Linked DNA regions of Homo sapiens: all the other regions are linked to region 1. Evidence: fine-mapped expression QTL. A gene starts in region 1. Each other region holds a variant in brackets. All regions are shown on one strand. Distances are between the middles of the regions.

Region 1 (5,146 bases):
AGGGAACCGGGGGCAACTTCGGGAGACCAGATTGCAGGCTGATCAGCCAGGAAGGGGTCTCGGGGACAACGGGCGAGGTTTGACGAGCCAGGGGTGAGCCCGAGCCACGAGGGAAGAAACCAGAAGAGGTGCAGGCGGGTCCTGTGAGGCTAGAGGACGCGGCTGGGGTATCCGGATGGGGAGAGGCCTAGTGGCAGGGCCCCAGAGACCAGGGGCGGACCTGAGTGATGAGGGGGTGAAGCTGGGTATCAAGGTGCCTGCTTAAGGAGGGATGGGAGTGGGCAGTGGTCTCCAGTTGGAACTAGGGCATATCTCGGAATGGGGTAGGGAGGAGGGGGAACGTGACTTCTCGGTGGCCCCTGGCCCCGCCCACCTTCCTCTCTCGCTTCCCATCCCCGCTTAGTTCCTCGCCAGCTTAGAGGGAAGGCTGCCCGAATACAACACCCGCATCGCCCTGCCCCTTGCCACTTCCAAGGACAAGTTTTTTGGTCAGTATGGGTGGGGGGATGAAGGGGTGCGGTTGGGGCCCCAAGCTGGGTAGCAGGAGGTTGTCAGATACCCTGTTCAGGGCCAAGGTGGGGGTGGAGTGGGGTGGTAAAGGGAAGGGGAGCCAGGGATGGGGACCTGGATCCCACATCGCTCCCTGCTCATCCCCCCACCCCCCTTAGACGAAGAGAGTGAGGAGGAGGACAACGAGGTAGTGACCCGCGCATCACTCAAGATCCGTTCCCAGAAATTAATCGAAAGTCACAAGAAGCACCGTCGCTCTCGGAGGTCCTAGACTCGTCCTGACACCCACCAGGCGGCCCCCTTCGGAGCCCCCGATCCCTCCGGGTCTAGCGCAGGCCCCACGGGGCCCCTTCAGGGGCTGAACGCGGCCCGGACCGGGAACGGAGGCGGCCAGCGGCGCCCGGAGGGGAGGAAGGGGCCGGGCCAGACGTTCCCACAGTAAATCTCCCCAGCTGGGTCCGCCCCGGCCTCAGAGTTGCGCAATAAATGTTACCGACCATGCCCCTGGGTATTCATCTGTTTTTGACCCTGCACCACCCAAGAGACGGCTGTCCCTGAAAACCCAGGGCCACAGACTGCCTCCTCCAACCTGGGTCATGATGACTCCCATCAGCTAGTGACGCAGATGGAGCTTAAAAATGGGAGATGGCCCGATGTAGTGGTTTTATGCCTGTAATCCCAGTATTTTGGGAGGCTGAGTTGGGAGGATCACTTGAGTCCAGGAGCTCCAGGCTGCAGTGAGCTATGATCGTGCTACTGCACTCCAGCCTGGGCCACAGAGCCAGACCCTGTCTCAATAAATAAAATAAGGGCGGGGTGCAGTGGCTCATTCATACCTATATTCCCAGCACTTTGGGAGGCTGAGCTGGGTGTGTCGCTTGAGCCCAGGGGTTCCAGACTAGCCTGGGCAACATGGTGAAAACCAGTTTTTACCAAAAAAAAAAAAAAAAAAAAAAAAAAAAAAAAAAAAGCTGAGCATGGTGGCATATGCCTGTAGTCCCAGCTACTTGGGAGACTGAGGCAGGAGAATGGATTGAACCCAGGAGGCGGAGATTGCAGTGAGCCAAGATCAAGCCACTGCACTGCAGCCTTGGCAACAGGAGTGAGACCCTGTCTCTAAAAAATAATAAGGCTGGGCGCCGTGGTTCATGCCTGTAATCCCAGCATTTTGGGAGGCTGAGGTGGGCGAATCTCTTGAGGCCAGGAGTTTGAGACCAGCCTGGCAAGTATGGCAAAACCCCGCCTCTACAAAAAATACAAAAATTAGCTGAGCATGGTGGCGGCACCTGTAATCCTAGCTACTTGGGAGGCTGAGGCACAAGAATCCTTTGAATCTGGGAGGCGGAGGTTGCAGTGAGTTAAGATCAAGCCACTGTACTCCAGCATGGGTGACAGAACGAGACTCCATCTCAAAATAATAGCAATAATAATAAAAAGTGGAAGATGCCCCCACACTTGATCAAGCTAGCCCCTTCCACTGGAGGACAGAGGACTCTGGTCTGGGGACACACACATGCCCCCACACAGGAGCTCCCCCACATCTGGGGATACAAAAAAGACCCCTTGGGGACAGATATGTCCTTTCTTCTGGGGACAGATTGATAGGCACCCAGCGGAAGAGCCAGGACCTCTCCTGGGCTGGCGCTGGGTCCGGCTGGAGGCACCCAGAGGCTGGGTCCGGCCTGCCCTGCCCCGCCCCGCCCCAGCAGCTCGGCCGCTCCGCCCCTCTGGCCTCAGCGCCCGGCCACTGCCCGCCGCCCGCCACCCGCCACCCGCCGGCCCTTCCGCCTCACTCAGCGGCGCCACTGAGAGGGACGGGCGCCGGCCATGGAGCGCACAGCAGGCAAAGAGCTGGCCCTGGTAAGGGGACAAGGGATCCCCGGACCCCGCATCCCTGGTGACCCGCAGGTCCAGAAACTCCAAGCGCCCGCCCGTCGGACGGTATCTGCTCCCAATCTGAACTTGCCCTGGAGTCCCCTCCTGGGGACTCGCGGCCCTTGACCCAGTGAAGCGACTGGTTCCTCTTAGGGATGGGGGCGCGAGTCTCTGAGCGCAGTCGGCAGAAAGAGCTAGAGACAGGTTCTATTAGACTGGGCCCTGGGACATCCCCAAATGCCACCCCATGTCCTCAGGACCTGGGAGGAGGGGACCCGCAGCGAGGAGGGGACTAGCCTGGGACCCCAGCCCTAGTCTCGCAGCTTCTGGCCGGGAAGGGGCGTGGGGATGCAGCAGGAGGACTCGGCCCGAGTCCGAGCGGCCAAGGAGGCTGAGGCCCCAGGACCTGTGCCCCTTTGGTGCCCTGAGTCCGCCTGTGCGTCCAGGCACCGCTGCAGGACTGGGGTGAAGAGACCGAGGACGGCGCGGTGTACAGTGTCTCCCTGCGGCGGCAGCGCAGTCAGCGCAGGAGCCCGGCGGAGGGCCCCGGGGGCAGCCAGGTGAGGAGGGGGTTTGGTGGGTGGCGCGGGGCCGGAAGCGACCAGTTGAGGGCGGAGCTGGAGAGCCGAGCACAGGCCGCCAGGTGCAGTGGGCGGAAGGAAGGGAGGGGCTCGGAGGCGACCAGATGAGGCGACCAGGTAGAAAGGGGACTGGGGGCGGCCAGGTAAGTGGGGGGAGATCCAGGGAATGGGGTGGGGCCAGGCGATGGCCGCGCAGTTCCCGAGAGGAGCCTAGGGACAACTTGGTAAGGACAGAACTGGACGGCAGAGTTGGGAAAGGCAGGTTTAGAGGGCCGGGGCTGGAAGGTGGAATGGGGTTGGTTTAGAAGTGGCTAGGTGAGGGCGGATGGGGCAGCCAGTGAAGCGCGACAGGAGGGCTGAGGGAAGCCCTGGGTGGAAAAGAGTGTGTGGGGCGGGGGCGGGGGGGTGGGGGGAGGGGACGGGAGGGGGAGGGGACGGGAGAGGGAGTAGGGGACAGGGCATGGGAGAGGGAGGGTTTCCAGGGCAAGTTGCAGGAGCTATTTGTGGATGGGGAGGAACAATAACTTCAAGCGGGCAGGGAGTGGGGCACACACCTATAATCCCTGCGCTTCGAGAGACCAAGGCAGAAGGCCAGGAATTGGAGACCAGCCTGGACAACACAGCAAGATTCTCTCTAATAAAAATAAAAATTAAAAAACTAGCTGTGCGTGATGATGCCCAGCAGTGGTCCCAGCTACTCAGGAGGCTGGGGCAGAGGGACCGCTTGAGTCTAGGACTTGGAGGCTGCAGTGAGCTATGATTGTGCCACTGCACCCCAGCCTGGGCAACAAAACAAGACCTGTTTCTAAAAAAAACAAACCAAAACAATAACTCCAAGAAGCCGGGAGACAGAGGAATCACATGAAAGAATGGTGCTACAGGCGGGGCGAGGTGGCTCACGCCTGTAATCCCAGCACTTTGGGAGGCCGAGGCAAGTGGATCATCAGGTCAGGAGTTCAAGACCAACCTGGCCAAGACGGTGAAACACCGTCTCTACTAAAAATACGAAAAAACTAGCTGGGCTTGGTGGCGGGTGCCTGTAATCCCAGATACTTGGGAGGCTGAGGCAGAGAATTGCTTGAACCCAGGAGGCGGAGGTTGCAGTGAGCCAAGATCACGCCACTGAACTCCAGCCTAGGTGACAGAGTGAGATTCTGTCTCAAAAAAAAAAAAAAAAAAGTGGTGCTAGGGGCTGGGCACGGTGGTTCACGCCTGTAATCCTAGCCCTTTGGGAGACTTTGGGAGGCCAAGGGGGGCAGATTACTTGAGGTCAGGAGTTCGAGACCAGTCTGACCAACATGGTGAAACCCTATCTCTACAAAAATACAAAAATTAGCTGGGCTTGGTGGTGTGCGCCTGTAGTTTCAGCTACTTGGAGGCTGAGGAAGGAGGATTGCTTGAACCCAGGAGGCAGAAGTTGAAGTGACCCAAGATCGTGCCACTGCACTCCAGCCTGGGCAACAGAGTGAGACTCTGTCTCAAAAAAAAAAACAAAAAAAAAAAGAGTGGTGCTAGTGATGAATGTGACTAGAGAAGGGGTGCTGTGAGGACCACTCCTGCTCTCTCATGGCCACCTCTCCCCTCCTGCAGGCTCCCAGCCCCATTGCCAATACCTTCCTCCACTATCGAACCAGCAAGGTGAGGGTGCTGAGGGCAGCGCGCCTGGAGCGGCTGGTGGGAGAGTTGGTGTTTGGAGACCGTGAGCAGGACCCCAGCTTCATGCCCGCCTTCCTGGCCACCTACCGGACCTTTGTACCCACTGCCTGCCTGCTGGGCTTTCTGCTGCCACCAATGCCACCGCCCCCACCTCCCGGGTCAGTAGCGAACCATAACCTCCGTATTCTCCACCCTAGAACCCCAACTGGGCACCCCCCTCCACCTCCTCAGGTGTGGAACCTGGAAACACCTCCCAGACCCAGAGCCCTCTTCCTAAGCCCCCTCTAGGTTCCCCCTTCTTCACCTGCTGGGGGGCCTCTTCCCAGGGTAGAGATCAAGAAGACAGCGGTACAAGATCTGAGCTTCAACAAGAACCTGAGGTGGGTCCTTCATCCAGATAGGGGAGTGCGGGGAGGGAAATCCAAGAGGTCAAAGGTTAGCAGTCGGACTGGGGTTTTGAAAATTGCAGGTTGGGTAATAAGAGACTGGGAGTCAGGTGGGGCGTGGTGGCTCATGCCTGTAAT
Region 2 (5,146 bases), 680 kb before region 1:
CAATTACATACTTTTTCTTTGTTCCTAGTGCTTGTATTGTCATATCATAGAATCTTTCCTAAATCCATGATCACGAATATTTTTGAATGGCACACTGTAGCATCAAGAGGGTAAGATTTTCCTTTGTTCCCGTGGGAGGATGAGAATGTGGTATTTGAATAATTCTGCAGGCTGACATAGAAATGAAACCCACTATACACTGGAGACTAAAACTATATCAATTTTATATACTATAATGTCATAATTCATTAAGTTGTTTACTATAATGCCATTTATATACAACAGCTATATACCACATTACAAGTTATATATAATATTTATGTTATCTATCATAACTAGACTATATACTATATATACTTTATGTGTGCATGTATATAAATGTGTATATATATGCATATTATAATGCTAGACTATAATACTATACATGAATATCTCTTTAAATGTTAACACACAAAGCCGGAGCAATATAATTGCAAAGAGAATCCACCCATATATGACAACATCTGTACTCCATGACAAAGTGGAATTTAATTCATGGAAGCAACATTGCTTACATTTCAAAAATCAACTTATGCAATACACAGTAGTTACAGAATCAACATCAAAAACCACAATCTAAACACATGCAAAAAAAAAGTGACAAACCTCAACACTCCTTCAAAATAGAAATAATCAGGAATACGAGGGAACTTCTACAACCTACTATAAAATATGTATAAAGGCTGGGCACAGTGTCTCACGCCTGTAATCCCAGCACTTTGGGAGGCTGAGGCAAGCGGATCACCTGAGGTCAAGTGCTCGAGACCAGCCTGACCAACATGGTGAAACCCCATCTCTAGTAAAAATACATAATTAGCTGGGCATGGTGGCTCATGCCTGTAATCCCAGCTACTTGGGAGGCTGAGGCAGGAGAATTGCTTGAACCCGGGAGGCAGAGGTTGCAGTGAGCCAAGATGGCGCCACTGCACTCCAGCCTGGGCAACAAGAGTGAAACTTCGTCTCAAATAAATAAATAAATAAATAAATAAATAAAATATGTATAAAAATGCATAGTTACCATCATATTTGGATGATCCACTGACAGTTAACAAAACTCAATATAACTAAGCAAACCTATAAACTAATTATTTTCTCCAAATTGTTAAGCCAACAAAGGCAAGCACTAAAGAAAGATTTTAAAAAATAAAAGGAACTCAGCAAAACCAAACCCTGCCTGTTTACCAAAAACATCACCAAAAACTGGCACTGCCTGCCCAGTGACATGTTTAATGGTGCCAGTATCTTGACTGTACAGGCATAGCATAATCATTTGTTCCCGAAACAGAGACTTGCAAGACTGGTCACATGAGGGTTTAGCTGTCTCTTAATCAGTGCAATTGACCTATCTGTGAAGAGGCAGAAATACTTAAATATGATGAGAAGACTCTACGGAACTTAAATTTATTAGTCCATATATCCAATAATTAACCTAACTTAACAGGTATTAACATTGTATCCAATGAACTAAAAATTTTAGTTGAGGTGACCTCAGAGCAAAATATAACCTCAAAATGATTTTGACTAAGACGTACTAGTCAAAGTAAACTAATCCTTCTTCTTAACAATAAGTTTATAATTAACCTTCTCCTACTTATTTCCCACCATTCTCACTACAGCAATCTTAACATTTGTTGAATGAATAGTTTAGGTTACATACAACTCTGTAAGGGACCTAACATCATAGGCTCATATGGATTATTCCAACCTTTTGCCAAAGCAATAAAGCTGCTCATTAAAGAACCACTACAGGCTGGGCATGGTGGCTCACGCCTGTAATCCCAGCACTTTGGGAGGCTGAGGTGGGCAGATCATCTGAAGTAAGGAGTTTGAGACCACCCTGAACAACATGGAGAAACCCTGTCTCTACTAAAAACACAGAATTAGCCAGGCGTGGTGGCACATGCCTGTAATCCCAGCTACTGGGGAGACTGAGCAGGAGAATCACTTTATAAAAAGTAAAGTAGAGGTTCCTCTTCAAAGACTTTCCTCCCCATCTAATTAAATTATAACTTCTCTTAAAAACAAAATTTATTCAAAATCCTATACTAACATTCTTAAATATATACTAGCTGTAATAAAAAAAACATCAATATACTTTATGTTGGGAGCAGGCCCCCCAAAATCTGGCCATAAACTGGCCCCAAAACTGGCCATAAACAAAATCTCTGCAACACTGTAACATGTTCATAATGGCCCTAACGCCCACACTGGAAGGTTGTGGGTTTACTGGAATGAGGGCAAGGAACGCCTGGCCCACCCAGGGCGGAAAACCGCTTAAAGGCATTCTTAAGCCACAAATAACAGCATGAGCTATCTGTGCCTTAAGGACATGCTCCTGCTGCAGTTAACTAGCCCAACCTATTCCTTTAATTTGGCCCATCCCTTTGTTTCCCATAATGGATATTTTTAGTTAATTTAATATCTATAGAAACAATGCTAATGACTGGTTTGCTGTTAATAAATATGTGGGTAAATCTCTGTTTGGGGCTCTCACCTCTGAAGGCTGTGAGACCCCTGATTTCCCACTTCACACCTCTATATTTCGGTGTGTGTGGTGTCTTTAATTCCTCTAGCGCCGCTGGGTTAGGGTCTCCCCGACTGAGCTGGTCTTGGCAAGTGGCGTCCATTCATGGGGGCTTGAATGCAGGTTGAAGGGTCGCCAGAGCAATGGTTGGAACGGAAAACTAGCTGGAGGACACCCGAGTACTCTTAAAGCAATCCCCATGGTGAGTAAGAAGGGGAGCTCGGAAGCCTCAGGGTAACAATGGGACAAGTATGGGGTCTGGTTCGTTTCACCTTGGAACTTCTTCACACTGATGATGAGGAGGAATGAGTGAATAATGAAGTAACAGAAGAGGTTACAGACGAGGTTTATTTGCCAGTTAAAGCTAAAGCAGGAAAGGAG[G/A]GAGAGATTCATCCCTACCCTTCTGTACCCCCTCCTTATTATTTTCAAGAAAAAGACCCTCCAGATCTTTCTTTTCTGGAGGACACTGGGCGAAAAGTAGTTGCCCCAGTGACTGTTTGAGCAGCGCCGAGTGACCACTCTTAGTTCTATTCAGGCAGGAATTCAGCAAGCTAGAGGAGAGGGTGATACAGAGGCTTGGCAGTTCCCTGTTAGAATGAATACACCCCCCAAGATCAACAGGGAAATATTACAGCTACATTTGAGCCTTTTCCTTTTAAATTACTCAAAGAATTTTAAAAAGCTATACATCAGTATGGACCAGGTTCTCCTTTTATAATGGGACTGTTAAAGAATGTTGCTGTTTCCAGTTGGATGATACCTACTGACTGGGATGCTCTTACTCGAGCTTGTCTAACTCCTGCTCGGTTCTTAAAATTTAAAATTTGGTGGGCAGATGAAGCTTCCATTCAGGCTGCTCGCAATGCCCAGGCCCAAACTCAAATTAATGTAACTGCAGACCAACTTTTGGGGGTTGGAGGCTGGGCTGGTTTAGATGCACAACTGGTCATGCGGGATGATGCCATAGAACAGCTTAGAGGAGTGTGCATTAGAGCTTGGGAAAAAATCACTTCAGGTAGAGAACAATACCCTTCCTTTAGTGCTATAAAACAGGGATCCAAAGAACCATACGTTGACTTTATAGCTCAGTTACAGGAGTCTCTTAAAAAGATGATTGCAGATTTGGCTGCTCAGGATATAGTGTTGCAGTTATTAGCTTTCGACAATGCTAATCCCGATTGCCAGGCTGCTCTGTGACCTATCAGAGGGAAAGCACATTTAGTTGATTTTATCAAGGCCTGTGATGATATCAGAGATAATCTACATAAAGCTACTTTGTTGGCATAGGCAATGGCAGGACTGAGAGTGGATAAAGGAAATACTCCACTTCCTGGAGCTTGTTTTAACTGTGGGAAGCATGGTCATACTAAAAAAGAATGTAGAAAAAAATCAGCGAGTCAGGCCGCCAGATGGGGAGAAAAGAAAACTGCTGATTCTGAAATATGTCCAAAATGTAAAAAAGGAAAACATTGGGTTAACCAATGTCATCCTAAGTTTGATAAAGAAGGGAACCCGATTTCGGGAAACGCCATGAGGGCCCCATTCTAAACCGGGGCATTTCTAGCTCAGGCCATTCCCTCACCCCTGTACAATGTCTGTCCACCCCCCCACAGCCAGTAGTGCTGCAGTAGATTTATGCTGCACAAAAGCTGTGAGCCTTCTGCCTGGGGAACCCCCGCAAAAGGTCCCAACAGGAGTCTGCGGACCCTTGCCAGCAGGGACAATAGGATTACTTTTAGGAAGGTCTAGTTTAAGTTTAAAAGACGTACAAATACATACAGGAGACACTGATTCAGATTATAATGGGAAATTCAAATTGTTGTATCTACTTCTGTTCCCTGGAAAGCAGAGCCAGGAGAGCGCACATAGCACAGCTCCTGATTGTGTCGTATGTGGAAATGGGGAAAAGTGAAATTAAACGAACAGGAGGATTTGGAAGCACAAATAAACAAGGCAAAGCAGCTTATTGGGTAAATCAAATTACTGATAAACATCCTACCTGTGAAAATAACTATTCAGGGAAAGAAATTTAAAGGTTTGGTAGATACAGGAGCAGACATTTCAGTCATTTCTCTACAGCACTGGCCGTCCACGTGGCCAATTCAACCTGCTCAATTTAACATAGTTGGAGTTGGTAAAGCCCCTAAAGTATATCAAAGTAGTTATATTTTGCATTGTGAAGGGCCTGATGGACAACCTGGTACTATTCAACCAATTATAACTTCTGTACCTGTAAATTTATGGGGGAGAGATTTATGACAATGGGGAGCACAAGTTCTAATTCCAGAACAATTATATAGCCCTCAAAGTCAACATACAATGCATGAAATGGGGTATGTCCCTGGTATGGGACTAGAAAAAAATTTGCAAGGTTTGAAAGAACTGCTTCAAGCAGAAAGAAAGTTCCTGCCAAAGATTAGGGTATTATTTTTGATGGTGGCCATTGTCAAGCCTCCAGAACCTATACCTTTAAAATGGTTAACAGATAAGCCAATTTGGTAGAACAATGGCCGCTAAGTAAAGAGAAACTGGAGGCTTTAGAGAAATTAGTCATTGAACAATTACAAAATGGACACATAGCTC
Region 3 (5,146 bases), 130 kb before region 1:
TAACGTGTATCCTTGGAAACCTGGGCTTTTTCCAGAGGGTGGGGAGGGGGCTGGAGTCCGGACCCTGCTCATCTGGCCCACTGTGTGCCCTGGTGCAGGGCCAAAGCCGTCCAGAGGAACAGGTGCCACCTAGTGATTTCTGTGGGGTGAGAAGATGCAGGGCAGGGTTCCAATGCCAATGATCGCCCTTGACCTAAGTGGCCCAGATCTGTCAGAACCCGTGGATGTGTACAGTGATTGGATAGACGCCTGCGAGGCGGCCAATCAGTAGCGACACAGAGGACCCGCCCCCTGAGCAGCCCCGCGTACTGTGGATCCAGCTGTTCGGTTCTGGTCCAGAGACATTCCAGGGGTCCAGGGTGTGGGTCCTGGGCTGTCACAGCCGTGTGTGTGTGTGTGTGTGTGTGTGTGTGTGTGTGTGTGTGTGTGTGTGTAGTGGGTGTGCGTGTGGGTGTGGGTGTGAGTGAGTGTGGGTGTGTGTGGCTGCACGTGTCACTGGGGTGGCCGTGAGTGTGTGCTCACAGGTACGCGGTGGTGTCGGGTTCCTGGGCCTGAGGGGCCTGAACTGATCTCACTTGGCTCCGAAAGCCTTTGCTGTGTTCCCTGCAGCCCCTGGCCCCCCAGCCTTGGGGCTCTGGCTCCCCCCGGCGGAATTGGGGGACTGTTTCCTGACATCCTGGACAAGGGAAGCCCACTAGAGGCTGGAACAGGACCTCTCCAGCCTCCTCACCAGCACCGTGCCCATCTCAACTGGACTTCCCGCTCTCCTTCTCCACCTTCTAGTGCCCGTGGCCGGGGATTCAAAGCCGCCGTTCCCCAGGTCCCTGGGCTGGGCCCTGACAGGGAGCCGCCCCCCTCCCCATGGTAACCAGGAAGCCCGTTTCATGTTCAGTTGCTTTTGTAGAGGAAGCAAGGGCTGGGATGGGGACAGCTGTCAATCACAAGCCCTTAAATAAAGCAGCCAGCGCACATCCCTTGCTGTCCGTGATGTCTTGGGTTCTGCGTCTGCCTGGTCACCAGAAGAAGGAGAGGGGACCTGAGGCTCTGACGTTCGGGAGGTGGCCTGGTGGCCCATGTGACCAGCCCTTCAAACCACCCAGCGTTTTATTCAGTCAGTAAGCATTCAGGGTGGTGGAGCAGGCAGACATCTGGCCAGGTGTTTACAGCAGTCACAATAGGAAATGGGGGAGGTGAGACAGAACAGGTGGTCAGAGGAGGCTTCTGGGAGGGGCAGGCTGAGACAGTGACACCGTAGGGCCACCTCTAGCCAGACGCTGACCTCTGGCCTTCCTGCGTCGCCCCAGTGTCCTGACAGCCACTTTGTGGGGCAGGTGCCAAGCTAACCCCAAGTTCAAAGATGAGGAAACAGAGGCTAGAGGTGAAGGAGGTCACTGGCCCAAGACCCTACAGCCAGAAAGTGGCACAGGGGGGATTTGAACCCAGGAAACGAGGCTCCACAGCTTACAGTCTGACTTCTTGTGAGCCCAGAGTCCAGGCTGAGGGAACAGCTTACAGGCCGTTCTGGAGGTAGTGAGTGGAAGAGGGACACGGGAGGGAAACATGAAAGGGGCCTTTATTCAAGGGTGGTGAGGACTCTCAGAAGGCTGGTGTTGGGGCGGGATGTGTGTGGCCGATGGGGAGCACCTGAGGGCTGATGTCCCCTTAGCTGGTCGCACCGGTGACAAGGACCACAACACCCAGCAACCTGGGGCAGTGCCAGACCCTCCACCTGGCCTCATGAGCCCGGGTGGCAGGTGACCTGTGCTTCAGAGTCCTCGTTGCTACAGTGCAGGGGATGAAAGCACCTTCTTCCCGGAGCCATGCTGAGGATGGAAGTGCCAGGCATGGTTTGAGCGGCTCTGGGGCCCACCCAGGGCACTGACGGATGTGAACAGCGGGGGGAGACATTGAGCTGGCCCGGAAGCCCTGGCTGCCAGACTGGGCTGCTGGGTCTGGCCTGTGCACCCCCTCAGGCCCACTCTGCCATGACATGTCTTCCCTGGTTATCCCGCCACCTCCAAGATCCCAGGTAAGGTCTGCTAGCCCTGGCAGGAGCCGGCACACATGCGCAGAGTGGTGGACAGGCACCTAGGTTTAGGGTGATGGCCCTCTGGGATCCAGCAAAAAGGGGGCTCATTCCTCTGGCACCCGAGGCCCTTCCTGCCGCCCGCCCACCCCAGCCTCACAGGCTAAGTGCTAATATGGTGCTGTTTTCCCGAGGAGGCAGGGCCCTGGGCCAGGCCCGGATCCTCCTCAGCATAGCTTCCCCGCGCCGGCCCAGGGGGAGCAGGACTTGCGGTAGCCAGGCCAAAAGCGCCTGGAATCCGGTTTACGAGGCCCCAGGGGCTGCGTGCGTCTGTGCGCGGGTCTTCTGGTGTCTGCCTCCGCAGGTCTCCACGTTCCAGCCTCAACTCCTGCCCTCCCTGGGGAGAAGACAGCTCCGTGCCGCGCTCCTCGCTTCTCTGCCTCCTCTCCTCCTTGGAATCCTGATGGTTGGGGACCTCTCCCTCCTCCCGGGGATAACAGGGTCCCCTCTGAAATGTGAGGAGGTTGAGGCCCTGGACACAGCCTTTTAGAGTCCCGGGTTGGCAGGCTCAGCCTTAAGACGGCTGAGAGCGGGCGGGGCGCACAGAATTAACCGTGCCCTATGGTGCCCTGTGCCAGTCAGTAAAGGGCCATTGCCTTGGCTCAGAAGTGCCCCTCTCCCTGTCCCCTTTCCCCTCCCCACAGTCTGGGGCTAAAGGGTTCACCCTGCCCACAGGGCCCACCAGGACCCCTACTTGTCATCCTTTCTCTATTGATGCCTGGT[C/T]TTTACCAGCGATTAAACATGTAGAACATCACCCCATCTGGGGGTGTCATTTCATGACCACAAGAGGCTTACTGTCCCCATTATTTTGATGGGAAAACAGGTCTAGGGAGGGAAAGTGATTGCCCGAGGTCATCCAGGCAGCTGCTCTGTGATTCACATGCCATTTAGCCTGTCCCAGTACTCAGGCTCTTTGTCACCACCATCCACAAGCCTCTGGGAGAGCAGTGTGGGTCGTGTGTGTGTGTGTGTGTGTGTGTGTGTGTGTGTGTGCACGCGCGCGCGCATTGGCTCTCTGGCTGTGCCTTTTTTTTTTTTTTTTTTTTTTGAGATGGAGTCTTGCTCTGTTGCCCAGGCTGGAATGCAGTGGCGCCATCTCAGCTCACTACAGCCTAGATCTCCAGGGCTCAAGTGATTCTCCTACCTCAGCCTCCCAAGTAGCCGGGACTACAGGCATGCGCCACCACACCCTGCTAATTTTTGTATTTTTAGTAGAAACAAGGTTTCACCATGTTGGCCAGTCTGGTCTCGAACTCCTGACCTCAAGTGATCCTCCCATCTCAGCCTCCCAAAGTGCTGGGATTACCGGCATGAGCCACTGTGCCCGGCTGGCTATGCCTTTTTTACATGTCGTAGGGAGTGTGTACTGCCTGTGTGTGCATATCTGTGTGTGAAAGGGGGGAGTGTGTGTGTGTGTGTGGACTTTGCATGTGAGTGTGATGGGGTGCCTGTCCTGTGTCTAGCTGAGTGGCTACAGTGAGGTGTGTGTCTTAGGGTGCGTGTGAGTGTGTATGTACGTCTTAGGGTGCATGTGGGCATGTGTGTCCGTGCAGATGTGTGTGCGGGATATGGCGCATATCTAAAACAGAGCAGCTCTGAGGCCTCAGGAGATTTTACAGCCATTTATTGTGCTCCAGTGAAATAGAAAAAAAAGAAAGTGCTCTCATTACAAACGCCACTGTCACATCCACATAGTATGCCAGTCGCTGCAAACCAAACCGCGTGTGTCCGCTGGGTCTCTGGGCATGCAGTTTGCTCCCACTGCGGGAATGGGGTGGGGGCAGGCCGAGCCTGGGCTCTGGGGGCTTTGCTGGGGGAGCTTCTGGTCCTGGGGGTACCCACTTGTGAGGGAGTGGGGGGACAGCTGGAATAGCGTTGCTCAGTGCGTCCTTTGGGCGCTGTTGGGGACACCCGGCTCTATGTTGGACCCTGTAGCACTACAGAGCGGAGGGTCCCCTTCCCCCCAATGGGCCCCCCGCCAGTCTGCTCTCTCCAAACTCTAACCCTGTAGAGGTTGAGTTCTACAGGGGCTGGAGGATGCCATGCAGGGAGAGGGGGTCGGCTGGGCCTGGCTGGGTCCAGCCAAGAGCAGCAGCAGCCTCCCTTGGGGGGAAAACAGGGAAGGCCTTGTGGCCCTAGGCGGAATTGTAGTAGTTGTGTGCGTGGTGGTTGTGGGCGGGCTCACCCAGCTCTGGGTACTCGGGAGTCAGACAGTACTTGGGGTCGTAGACCTGGCGTGGCAGCCCATACACCGTCATGCCCCGCTGCGAGGCGCCCTTGTTGCTGCCCATCTGCAGGCTGACATTGAGCGTGTCGCAGTGCTCCATGCCCAGCCCCGGCTCGAAGATCTGCCGCTTGGTCCCTGGCGCAGTCATGCCAGCCTGCGAAGGGTGGTGTGGTCAGGCCGTGGGGTGGCCAGGGTCCTGGGCCTTGACGGCGTGTCCCGGGGGCCCCCACTCACCTGGCTGGCTCCTTTGTTGGTGCCCATCTGCAGGCTGATGGTCGCCTGGTCCAGAGGCTGGTCTGTGCCCAGCTTGGGGTCGTAGAGGTGGCGCCGGGTGCCATAGGCCGTCATGCCCTGCTGGCTGGCAAACTTGTTGGTGCCCATCTAGGAAGCCAGAAGGAGAATCACACCAATAATTACAGACCTCATCATGGGCCATGAGGCATAGCTGATGGGAGAGGATGAGGCGCCGCTTTATCATTTTTTTCAATTTTTATTTTATTTTATTTATTTTTTTTTGAGACGGAGTCTTGCTCTGTTGCCCAGGCTGGAGTGCAGTGACATGATCTCAGCTCACTGAAATCTCCATCTTGCACATTCAAGCAATTCTCCTGCCTCAGCCTCCGGAGTAGCTGGGATCACAGGTGGGCATCACCATGCCCGGATAATTTTTTGTATTTTTAGTAGAAATGGGGTTTCACCATGTTGGCCACGCTGGTCTCGAACTCCTGACCTCAGGTGATCCACCCACCTCACCCTCCCAAAGTGCTGGGATTACAGGGGTGAGCCACTGTGCCTGGCCCATTTTTTAGTTTATTTTTATATTTTATTTTGTT
Region 4 (5,146 bases), 79 kb after region 1:
GCCTCTCCTATAATGATGCCCATTTATTGAGCACCTGCTGTATACCAGACATGTTGTTAACCACTGACATATCATGTATTATTTGTTTTGTTTTGTTTTGTTTTGTTCTGTTTTGAGACGGAGTTTCACTCTTGTTGTCCAGGCTGGAGTGCAGTGGTGCGATCTCAGCTCCCTACAACCTCTGCCTCTGGGTTCAAGCGATTCTCCTGCCTCAGCCTCCTGAGTAGATGGGATTACAGGCATCCGCCACCATGCCTGGCTAATTTTTTGTATTTTTACTAGAGACAGGGTTTCTCCATGTTGGTCAGGCTGGTCTTGAACTCCCGACCTCAGGTGATCCACCCGCCTTGGCCTCTCAAAGTGCTAGGATTACAGGCATGAGCCACCATGCCTGGCTGTTTTGTCTTTTTTTTTTTTTTTTTTTTTGAGACAGAGTCTTGCTCTGTTGCCCAGGCTGGAGTGCAATGGCATGACCTTGGCTCACTGCAATCTCCGCCTCCCGGGTTCAAGCGATTATTCTGCCTCAGCTTCCTGAGTAGCTGGGATTACAGACACCTGCCACCACGCCCATCTAATTTTTGTTATTTTTAGTAGAGACGGAGTTTCACTGTGCTGGCCAGGCTGGCCTTGAATTCCCGACCTGAGGCCATCTGCTCGCTTCGGCCTCCCAAAGTGCTGGGATTACAGGCGTGAGCCACCACGCCCAGCCTGTTTTGTCTTGTTTTTGACAGGGTCTTGCTCTGTCACCCAAGCTGGAGTGAAGTGGCGTGATGATAGCTCATTGCAGCCTCCAACTCCTGGACTCAAGCAATCCTCCCACCTCAGCCTCCAAAGTAGCTCGGACTACGGGCGCCAGCCACCAGGCCCAGATGGTTCTGATCCTAGAGGACAATCATATTTCCCACCCTACTGACATTGGGGGTGGCCATGTGACTTGCTTTGGCCAATGAAATGTGAGCAGAGGTGGCATGTGTCCCTTCCAAGGAGAAGTATTACAAAACAGTACATAATTTGCTGCATTTTCACTTCACAAAACAACCATCATGGGAACCAAACCTTAGCTGTTGGGGCCGTGAAGTCTTTGGGAGTGCTTGTTACTAAGCATAACCCAGCCCTTCCTAACTAATGCACTTCATCCTCATTCATCCACGTGGCAGCTCTTGAGGCAGCTACTTTTGTTCCCACGAGGCAGTGGGGGCTCAGAGAAGTTCAGCAAATTGAGTAAGGTGGAATTGCTGGGATTCCAACACCAGCAAAACCTGGGTATTTCACAAAGGGATCCAACCCACTTTAACTTTCTTTATTTAGAGATAAAGTCTTGCCCTGTCACCTAGGCTGGAGTGCAGTGGCACAGTCATAACCTACTGAAGCCTCTCTCTCTCCCAGGCTCAAGCAATCCCCCTGCCTCAGCCTCCGGAGTAGCTAAGACTACATGTATGTGCCCCCATGGTCAGCTAATTTTTTTTTCTTTTTTCTTTTTTTCTTTTTCTTTTTTTTTTTTTTTTTTTTTTTGTGGCCAGCTAATTTTCAAAAAAATTTTTTGTAGAGTTGGGATCTCTATGTTGCCTAGGCTGGCCTTGAACTCCTGAGCTCAAGGAATCCTCCTGCCTCAGCCTCCCAAAGGGCTGGGATTACAGGCATCAGACACTGTGCCCAGCCTCATTTATTTTTTAATTTTTTTTTTTTTTTTTTTGAGACAGAGTCTCACTCCATCGTCTAGGCTGGAGTGCAGTGGCGCGATCTCGGCTCACTGCAACCTCCACCTCCTGGGTTCAAGCGATTCTCCTGCCTCAGCCTCCCAAGTAGTTGGGATTACAGGTGTGCACCACCATGCTCGGCTAATTTTTGTATATTTATTTATTTATTTGAGACAGAGTTTCGCTCTTTTTGCCCAGGCTGGAGTGCAGTGGCGTGATCTCGGCTCACTGCAACCTCCGCCTTCCGGGTTCAAGCAATTCTCCTGCCTCAGCTTCCAGAGTAACTGGGATTACAGGCATGCGTCACCACGCCTGGCTAATTTTGTATTTTTTAGTAGAGACAGGGTTTCTTCACGTTGGCCAGGCTAGTCTCGAACTCC[C/T]GACCTCAGGTGATCTGCCCACCTCGGCCTCCCAAAGTGCTGAGATTACAGGTGTGAGCCACCGTGCCCAGCCCCTAATATTTGTATTTTTTTTTTTTTTTTTTTAGTAGAGATGAGGTTTCACCATGTTGGCCAGGCTGGTCTTAAATTCCTGACCTCAAGTGATCCGCCTGCCTTGGCCTCCCAAAGTACTGGGATTACAGGCATAAGCCACCGCGCCCAGCTCTCGTTTATTTTTATTTATTTGAAACAGGGTCTTGCTCTGTTGCCCAGGCTGGAGTGCTGTGGTGCAATCAAGGCTCACTGCAGCCTCGATGTCTCCAGCAATCCTCCTGCCTCAGCCTCCCAAGTAGCTGGGGTTACAGACGCACGCCACCACACCTGGCTAATTTTTGTTATTTTTAGTAGAGATGAGGTCTCCTTACGATGCCCAAGCTGGTCTCAAACTCCTGGCCTCAAGTGATTCTCCTGCCTCGGCCTCCCAAACTGCTGTAATTACAGGCCACCGCGCCTGGCCTAGCCTACTTTAAGGCCGGCACTGCACTTGACAAACACTAACTCAGATCAGAATCCTCCCACAACTCTGTGAGGTTGGGTACTCTCGCTATGAGCTACTTGACGGATGGGGAAACTGAGGCTCAAAGAGGTTAAGTAACGCGTCCAAAGCCACAAGACTAGAAAGTGGTGGAGCTGGGACTCGAACCAGGCCCAAGACTCTATGCTTTTAACAGCCGTGCGTATAGTAGAAGCTCTTTACAAGCAGCTGGGAAAATGAGATGTTGCTTGGCTAGGACGGGCTCTAGACGCTTGGTGCAGCTTCCAGCCCCTCCCACCCGCTCTCTGAAAGCCCCGCCCAAGACTCGGCCCCTCTTCGTCCTCCCCCATCCCCCGCTCCGGGAACGGCCCTTCCTCCGCCTTCTGGGCGGAGCCCGCGCGGGATCCGGGTGGCTGCAGGCTGCTGGCTTCTGCGGCTGCGGGGTCGGGGTCGCGGCCAGGGCCAAGCCGCAGCGAGTTCACAGGCGGAACCCCTGCAGGCGGCGCCCCCTACGCGAGGTCACCCCTGGGAAGGAGCGCAGCCCACCCGGCCCCTCCGCATCCGAGCAGGTCTGTGGGGTACGGGGGTTTGGGAGGAAGGTAGGGGGTCTGGGGAACAAAGGCGGGGCTGCGGGGAACGCCTCTGCCCTCGCCCCCACCCAGCTGGGCACTTGGGAAGCGCTGATGGGGCGCGGGCGGGGCAGAGAGCCCAGCTGGGGACAGGCGTTGGGACCATATGGTGATGGGGGAAACTCCTGAGTCCACCTGCATTGGCTGGGGCGCCCCAAATCTAGTGAAGGGGAACAGAGGCGAGCCCTCCGGGGCCAGGCTTGAGGGAGGGTCGGCAGATGGTTAGAAAGAGGCGGGACCGACTGACACAGGTGAGCTAAGGCTGGGGGAGGTGGGGGCCCCAGCCTTGCGGCCCTGCCCTGCGTGGGGAAAGGTTTCCTGCCTCTTCTCTTCCCCTCCTTAAACTCGTTCTCCTGGAACACGGGGTGGGGCCGGTTGGGTCCTGGTTTAAAATGGAAAAAAGCCCCAAAGGCAGTTGAGAAATAGCTGTGCCAGGGCTGTCTCTGCCTCTGCCCCGCCTGCATCCAGGCCTTCTGCAGCCTCTCCGTGCGGTTCCCGCAGCGGCCATAGACAGCTGGGGAAACTGAGGCCTGGGAGAGGTTATGAGGGTTGAGGGAGCACCTTGGACTCGGATGAAGCAGCATGTTGGAGTGTGGGCAGATTCAAGGAGCCTAGCCGTGGGACAGATTGCCTGGAAAGACCAAGGGTGGGCGGCAGTGGTCGTGGTGGTGGGGTTGTGTTAATTAAGTGGCTGGGATCGTTTCCTTGGGTATAAGGACTCTCACTCCTGCCTCCGTGGACTGGGGCTGGAGTGAGTCAGCCTTGGGCAGAAGGAGACAGGCCTGGCCCCTTTGACAAATAGAAAATAGCAGTACCCATTTAGGGGGTAGAACTGGACTCTAAACCTGGGCCCTGTACATAGAAAACCCCTTCCCCTTGGAACTCAGAGAAGGGGTTGTATTTGGCATGAGTTGGTGGGCGGCAGGCGCCCCAGTGGCTGACACCTGCCAAAGTCAACACCCAAGCCTTAATCAGGGGCTCTATCCAGCTTATCCAGCTGGCAGGTCCTCCCCCCACCCCACCCCAGCTTACACCTGGGCCACACCGGCTGCACACGCTGGGGCGAAGTCCACACCTGTGCCTTCTCCAGAATCTAGTTCTGCAGGGGCCAGAGCCCCTTACCCTCGGCCTTGCACTTGAACCCTTTGCTAGGCCTCTGGGTTTCCAGATAGGAAAGGTCTCCCCACCCTCCACCCCAATACAGACTCAGTTACGCCACAGGGTGTGAAGATTAAACAGCAGTCACATTTTTTGTGCCCCAGCTCTATACCAGGCACTGTCTAATGACCGTTACGTGTGTTAATACCTTCCCACTGGAAGGAACGTGACCACCCGAGGATGGACTTTTTCTTGTCCTATTCACAGCTGCATTTCCACAGAGAACAGGGCCCGGCAGAGAGTAAGCATTTGTTGAATGAATAAAGAAACACATTTTAGGTCGGGCGTGGTGGCTCATGCCTGTAATCCTAGCACATTGGAAGGCTGAGGCAGGAGGATTGCTTGAGCAGAGGAGTTTGAAACCAGCATGGGCAACATAATGAGACCCCATCTCTACAAAAAAATTTTTTTTAAATTAGCCTGATGTGGTGGCATGTCTGTAGTCCCAGCTACTTGGGAGGCTGAGGCAGGAGGATCACTCGAGCCCAGGAGGTCAAGACTGCAGTGAGCTATGATCACGCCACTGCGCTCCAGCCTCAGGCAACAGAGCGAGATCTTGTCTCTAAAAAAAAAAAAAAAGAAAGAAAGAAACTCATTTTAGGCTCACAACCAACTACTCTTTCAGGAAGGGACTGTGACAAACATCCCATTTTTTAGAAGAGGACACTGAGGTCTAGAGGGGGCAAGCGATGCATCCAGCATCACTTGGTCTCCGAGTGACCGAGCTGAGATTTGAATCCAGGCCTG

What was found. PIP is the estimated chance that this variant, and not a neighbour inherited with it, causes the effect.
Region 2: its variant is the best candidate, but not a certain one, in a credible set for the expression of RGL3 in ovary (GTEx, PIP 0.60).
Region 3: its variant is the best candidate, but not a certain one, in a credible set for the expression of RGL3 in whole blood (INTERVAL, PIP 0.74).
Region 4: its variant is the best candidate, but not a certain one, in a credible set for the expression of RGL3 in whole blood (TOPMed, PIP 0.62).

What each region holds. Positions count from the first base shown.
Region 1 is chr19:11,416,470-11,421,615 of GRCh38, reverse strand. RGL3 (ral guanine nucleotide dissociation stimulator like 3) reads left to right here and starts at 2,302. Exons shown (of 19, transcript NM_001035223.4): 1 at 2,302-2,370; 2 at 2,832-2,945; 3 at 4,557-4,780; 4 at 4,949-5,002. The coding sequence starts at 2,338. It overlaps ODAD3 (outer dynein arm docking complex subunit 3), which reads left to right. Exons shown (of 13, transcript NM_145045.5): 12 at 404-488; 13 at 669-1,011. The coding sequence ends at 781. RefSeq lists an enhancer at 193-242.
Region 2 is chr19:12,101,285-12,106,430 of GRCh38, reverse strand. It overlaps the pseudogene ZNF788P. Among named protein-coding and RNA genes, the nearest start is that of ZNF20, 36 kb to the left of the region's middle. The variant G/A (reference allele first, on the strand shown) is at 2,945.
Region 3 is chr19:11,548,871-11,554,016 of GRCh38, reverse strand. CNN1 (calponin 1) reads right to left here. Exons shown (of 7, transcript NM_001299.6): 6 at 4,548-4,694; 7 at 3,694-4,467. The coding sequence ends at 4,222. It overlaps ELOF1 (elongation factor 1), which reads left to right. Exons shown (of 4, transcript NM_032377.4): 3 at 1-6; 4 at 207-971. The coding sequence ends at 271. Among named protein-coding and RNA genes, the nearest start is that of ELOF1, 7.8 kb to the left of the region's middle. RefSeq lists enhancers at 1,250-1,369, 1,789-2,083, 1,453-2,424. The variant C/T (reference allele first, on the strand shown) is at 2,810.
Region 4 is chr19:11,337,504-11,342,649 of GRCh38, reverse strand. It overlaps RAB3D (RAB3D, member RAS oncogene family), which reads left to right and starts at 2,993. Exons shown (of 5, transcript NM_004283.4): 1 at 2,993-3,181. RefSeq lists a silencer at 2,951-3,210. The variant C/T (reference allele first, on the strand shown) is at 2,078.